Homo sapiens: one gene and its partner. The protein of the gene in region 1 interacts with the protein of each later gene in a pairwise test. Each region holds a gene or a part of one and is shown on either strand. Other genes may lie near its edges.

Region 1 (3,828 bases):
ATCAATACGTATTACCTGTTTCTTTGCATATGTATATATATGTGTATACCCATTATAAATAATGGACATTTATATGTATGATACATATGTGTGGGTTTTGGCATGCATATGATGTATGTATATATGCCTGTATCTGTGTATTTGTATTTGTGTCTGTGTAGGTCTATGTATGTATATGTGTGTTTGTGTTTGGAATGTGAAGGCTACACTCCTAGCCTGTGGAGAGTGTTCACCTATGTGATGGAGGAGGGAGAAGAATGGGATAGAAGGGCTTCAACTGAGTCTTTAATGTTTTACATATGTAAATATTCTCATTCAGAAGTGGAAAACGTTAGTGTTAAATCTGGGTAGTGCATATATAGGCTGATTGATATCTTCTGTATTTTTATGGATGTGTGAAACATTTCATATTTGTGGGAGAAAACAGACCTGGACCAACAGGGATCAGGCACGCTGCCATGTGCCAAGTACGCCTTAAATAGATGCAAGAGTCAGCTAGTATCTCTATTTTGCAATCTTTGATTGGTAACTACTTTGGGGAATGTTAGCCTGGACAAACAACATTTGATGAATGGCTGGTTTCTTTTCCTGAATTTTTTATGATAGCATTCTTCATTGCTCCCTAGGTCAGCTGCAATTTGGAACCTCACCTGAGGGGCAATGTATATGTTCAGTACCAGTCGTAAGTATTCTGCTTGTGGATGTCTTCCTGATTTGTCACAGTTTGTTGTTCTGTTTCTGTTGATGTCTGGGATTTTTCCACTGGATATATAACTTTCATGTATTTTATTTCTTATGTTTTTATTTTTATTTTGTTTTTTTCTTTTGAGACGGAGTTTCGCTCTTGTTGCCCAGGCTAGAGTGCAATGGCGTGTTCTCAGCTCACTGCCACCTCCACCTCCCAGGTTCAAGTGATTGTCCTGCCTCAGCCTCCTGAGTAGCTGGGATTACAGGTGCCTGCCACCATGCCCAGCTAATTTTTTGTATTTTTAGTAGAGATGGGGTTTTACTATGATGACCAGGCTGGTCTCGAACTCCTGACCTCAGGTGATCCACCCACCTCGGCCTCCCAAAGTACTGGGATTACAGGCGTGAGCCACTGTGTTTGGCCCAGCTTTCATATATTTTAAAATATTTAAATAAAATTAAAGTTTAAATAAATCTAAATATTTAAAACTTAAATATTAAGAGTTGAAACAGAAATATAGAATGGATGTGAAAATAATATAAGCCGGGCATGGTGGCTCACACCTGTCATCCCAACACTTTTGGAGGCTGAAGTGGGAGGATTGCTTGAGGCCAGGAGTTCAAGACCAGCCTGGTCAACATGGCAAAACCCCATCTCTACTAAAAATACAAAAAATTAGCCAGGCGTGGTGGCAGGCACCTGTAATCCCAGCTACTTGGGAGGCTGAGACAGGAGAATCGCTTCAAGAGAGACCTCATCTCTACAAAAAAATTTAAAAATTGGCCGAATGTGGTGGCATGTGCTGGTAGTCCCAGCTATTTGTGAGGCTGAGGCAGGAGGATCACTTGAGCCCAGGAGGTCGAGGCTGCAGTGAGGTATGACTGTACCACGACACTCTAGCCTGGGGGACAGAGTGAGAGTAAGACTCCATCTCAAAAAGAAAAAAATAATAAATTTATATTTCATTCTTTATATATTTACATAGTTTTGAATGTTTTACAATATGGTTATATTATTACTCATAATTTTAATAATTAAAATACAAACTAATAAGGGATAACTAGAATAGAGAACATAAAAGCATTTATAGTGAAAGAGCCGGAGATTGAAGCCCAAAATCATCTTAGTGTGCATTTGACCAGCTAAGAGAGCAATTAATGTATCATTTCTTCTTATCTTGCTGTTTGCCTAGGCCATACCATGGCTAATGGGTTAAATTAACCAGTGTAATAAGAAGAACAGCAATCCTATCTGAGAAAGAATAGGCCCTAATAATGGAAAACACTTCTGCATTTTTAATGGTCCAATCTTTTGGATTAAGACGGTTTCATTCAAGCCAATTTCCATGCATTGAAACCTCTCCGAGGGTTAGTAAAAAGGGTTCCTGAATAAATTGGGAGCTTTGGGAGCTTGACCATTTTAATGACTCTTCCCTAGGTACAAAATCAGTGAACTTGGTGGTCCTACAATAAATTAATAACGGGGTTAATTAATAGTAGAGCTAATCTACATATTAGGAAGTTACTGTAAAGCATATCATTTGATTTTTGGTTTAAAGGGAAGAAGAATGCCAAGCAGCCCTTTCTCTGTTTAACGGACGATGGTATGCAGGACGACAGCTGCAGTGTGAATTCTGCCCCGTGACCCGGTGGAAAATGGCGATTTGTGGTAAAAGACAAAGTGATGATTTTTTTCCTCAATTGTTCCACTGCTATATAAAGGGATATTCTTTGGGGGAAACCCAGTATTTTCAAGTGGTGAGGCATAGCTTTTTGCCTCACACAGTAGATGAGCAGAGAACTTTATATAAAGAACACCACAGTTTAGATCTGTAACCGACCTCAATGAGTCACTTGATAGATGAAGTGACTGAGGTCACAACGTATTGGTGACAGAGGTGGGGCTAGAATTCCAGTCTTCCAATCTTCAGTCCTGGGCTCTGTGTCTGACAAATCAGGAAGCCTGAGGAGTTTACGTCTGTGGAAGCCCCATTTCCCTTGTTGCAGTTTCAGAGGTATTTTATATTCATTGGCTCACTTCACTTGAGCTGTTTGTTTGTTTCTTTCTTTCCATCTTTATCCCTAATGAATCTTCTGTCATGACCACCTACGTTACCTTGCCCATAGCATTTCCTGCCTTACTTGGAATAATACATCCTTCTGTGCACTAGAGACTAATTGTAGGCTTGGGATCAGTTAAACATGAATGCAGTCAGACTGACATCGGACAGTGGCAACCCAATCAGGAAATGATCCAGTCTTGTGCAGAATAGCCAGCAGTTTTGAAGGCCTAGTTATGTTCTGATTTCTCTCAGTGGACTGTTCCCTAGGTGAAAAGAGATGAGCTCTAAATGCCTCTGGGGAGCACTTATCTTACCGTTTACTTGTGTTTCTTTGCTGTATACATGCCTGCCTAACGCAAAGTCAGAATCTTTGGCAAGCTTGTCTTCCTTGGATTCTGTCATTCTGAAACCATTTATGAAGGGAAAAGAAAGATTTTAGGATTCCTGGCTAAGGGAAACCAGAAGAACCATTACACTTTAAAGGCTCGGGGGATGGAAGAGGTGGAATTGTTCGCTCCATAAAGGCAGTTACTTTTGTCAGTTCCTGGGAATCCAGTGTGAGTTCAGTGAGGAGCTTCTGAGTGTGACCTTGACTCCTCCAAAGCAGGGGACTATTTCATTAAAAAAAAAAAAACACTTTATTTTCCTTATTGACTAAAGACACTGAGCATCTTTTCATTATTGGCCATTTGTATGTCTTCTTTGGAGAGATGTCTGTTTGGATCCTTTGCCTATTTTCTAACTAGGCTCTTTGTCTTTTTATTATTGAGTTGTAAGAGTTCTTGGTATATTCTCCATACAAGTACCTGGTCACAAATATGATTTGCAGATATTTTCTCCCATTTTGTAGGTTCTTTTCACTTCATGTTCTTTTGAAATACAAGTTGTAAATTTTGATGAAATCCAACTTAACTATTTTTTTGTTTGTTTTGGTGTCACATCTAGGATGACATTGCTTAGCCCAGGGTCACAAAGATTTACTTGTATGTTTTCTTCAAGGTCATAGTTTCATTTCTTAACATTTAGGTCTTGGATACAGTTTAATTTTTGTATATAGTATGTGGTACGGAGGTATTTC
Region 2 (2,864 bases), on another chromosome or scaffold:
AGGGAAAAAAATGAATTTGCCAGGTCAGGAGTTCACCTGCCTTTGTCAGAGTTGAACCCAACCACTCTTGACCTCGACTCACTCCCTTAGGGTTAAGAAAGCCCAAACACATTCCTGAGCACAGAGCAAACACTCCCATGTCACTGAAAAGAAACAAAAGAATGCTAAAAAGTGCTCAGACCTGATCACATTTTTTCCAATATTTTTTCCTTTTTTTTTTTTTTTTTGAGACAGGGTCTTGCTCTATCACCTAGGCTGGAGTGCATGTTTTTGAGACAGGGTCTTGCTCTATCACCTAGGCTGGAGTGCATGATCATGGCTCACTATAGCCTTGAACTCCTGGGCTCAAGCCATCCTCAGCCTCCCAAGTTGCGAGGACTACAGGTGTGCACCACAACGTCCCAGCTACTTTTTAAATTTTTAGTAGAAACGAGGTCTCACTATGGTGCCCAGACTGGTCTCGAACTCCGGAGCTCAAGTGATCTTCCTGCTTTGGCCTCCCAAAGTGTTAGAATTACAGGCATGAGCCACCTCGCCTGGCTGGTTTTTGCCTTTCTTATAGACCCTGGGCATGTAAGCATTTATTAGTTTGCATTTTTGAAACAGTAATTTCAATATTTTAGTGCCAATGTCAGGCCGCTTAAACACTGTATTACATATCTTCATCTGTCTGGTGGAACTATTGGTGTGATCCTAGAGAACTGAGTCCTATTCTGCCATTCATTTAAAGTGTTTTAAACTCTAATCTCTCTACTTAATGCACAGTAGTCAGATTATTCTCTTAAACATTTGCCTAGTAGAGGTTAAAATAGTTTAATCCTTATGAAGATGGAATAACTTCAAACTCACATTGTGGCACTTAGATCTTCCACCAAGACTTCATCCGTGAAATCCACACCTCCCTGTTGGGTTCCCAATTACATTCCAAATTTACATTTCTTTTGAGAATCTCTGCATACTCCAGCTCTGTCCTGTTGATCCTATTCTAGAAGTGCTTAATGCAGCAAGACACAGAAAGTTAAACGCAAATTGCTGCAAAATTCACCCTCAGTGGAGGACTAGAAACACAACATGTCCAATTTAAAGCTCAGTTCACAAGCAGTTCAATTCTGCTGGCATCAGAAAAGGAGATTCTAATTAAACATTCTTAGGGAAGGACATCAAATGAGGTTAATGGGAAACGTTACCAGATTAAAAGCAGTTTTTTGACAAAGTAACAGATTTGGAAATTCTGACTCTCTGAAAGCCTTGATTTGAACCTCAAACTTGATTTCACCATGAGAAGTGGGGATCAAGGGCCTGCGCAGTTCTTTTCCTAAATCGATTCGGTGCTCCCCACCCCGACGCAGGCACAGGTCCGCAACCAGATAGGGAGATGCCTGAATTTCAGGCTACCTTTGACAAAGCTTTCTTCCTCCCTCCCTCCCTTTGCACGCTGCATCCCACGCTGCCTGCTTAAAGCGCCCTCATGTGTCTACAGATGGTAAAACGTTTATTTCTCAACAGACATTCCAGTGATAGCATCCAATGACCTATGTAACGGCACCCTTTTTTGCTGTACGCGTTTTTTGAGATGGAGTCTCGCTCTGTCGCCCAGGCTGGAGTGCAGTGGCGCGGTCTCGGCTCACTGCAAGCTCCGCCTCCCGGGTTCACGCCATTCTCCTGCCTCAGCCTCCCGAGTAGCTGGGACTACAGGCACCCGCCACCACACCTGGCTAATTTTTTGTATTTTTAGTAGATACAGGGTTTCACCGTGTTAGCCAGGATGGTTTTGATCTCCTGACCTCGTGATCCACCCCCCTCGGCCTCCCAAAGTGCTGGGATTACAGGGGTGAGCCACTGCGCCCGGCCCCAGTCACTTGTTCTTAAGTTTCTTAAGCAAACTATAAAATAGCAAAAGACCAAAAAAAAAGGAAAAAAAGCAGTTCGCCTAATACATTGTTCCAGCATTTCCTTGAAAGTACTGAGCCATCTCAATTGCTCTGATTTTGTGAGAAAATTATGAAGAGTTGCAAAGTCCCAGTGATTCTCTTGTTACTTAGCTAAGAATTTGAAATGTAATTTAAATACTATTCTTTACAATCCATTATAAGGATTTTAAAATCTTTTTGCTTCTTTAATAAATTCTAACAAAGTTTTGTGTTTATTCTTAGTTTCAAAGAACCAGGTCCCCAGTCCTGGGAGGCTGCTCAGCTGGCCAAGCCAGTGTTTAATCTCATTATAGCAGCCCTGCAGGCAAAGGCACTCTGGTCTGAATCTAGTCTATCTGAGAAATACACAATGCTGCTCTCATCATTCAAGGTTCTTACACATTAATGATTAATTATCAGAAGTCCCTTTGTCTGAGAACTCTGTTTTTTCCCACAGCTCAGAGGAGCTTCTGGGGCTGCCACTAAGTTCCAGTTTCATAGGAAGAATTGCCACAAACAACTTTTGCAGAATAATGAGTATATTCCAAAGCAAATTTGTCTGAGAAATTATGTAGACTTCTGGCAAAAAAAAAAAAAAAAAAAAAAAAATGGTTCAGAAGCATGACTGTGACAATGGCCAAAGAACTTCTACAGAAAATAGCAGTGTAAAAAGTGCTCCCTGTCAAAAAAAAAAAAAAGTATCCTTTTTTTTTTCTTTTTTTTTTTTTTGTGTGTGTGTGTGTGAGATAGGATTTTATTCTGTAACCCAGGCTGGAGTGCAGTGGTGCAATCACAGCTCACTGCAGCCTCCAGCTCCTGGGCTCAAGCGATTCTCCAGCCTCAGCCTCCCAAGTAGCCGGGACTAGAGATGCATACCACCGCACCTGACTAATTTTTGTATTTTCAGTAGAGATGGGGTTTCGCCATGGTGTCCAGGCTGGTCTTGAACTGCTG

Evidence for each region.
Region 2: the proteins of ZRSR2 (region 1) and SPATS2L interact in a two-hybrid assay, tested with the Homo sapiens proteins (one large-scale study listed by BioGRID).

Annotation. Positions count from the first base shown.
Region 1 is NC_000023.11:15,817,961-15,821,788, forward strand, and holds part of ZRSR2 (U2 small nuclear ribonucleoprotein auxiliary factor 35 kDa subunit-related protein 2), read left to right. Parts: intron 1-626; coding exon 627-682; intron 683-2,246; coding exon 2,247-2,356; intron 2,357-3,828. UniProt on the Homo sapiens protein: Pre-mRNA-binding protein required for splicing of both U2- and U12-type introns. Selectively interacts with the 3'-splice site of U2- and U12-type pre-mRNAs and promotes different steps in U2 and U12 intron splicing.
Region 2 is NC_000002.12:200,480,129-200,482,992, forward strand, and holds the end of SPATS2L (SPATS2-like protein), read left to right. Parts: 3' UTR 1-2,136; downstream 2,137-2,864.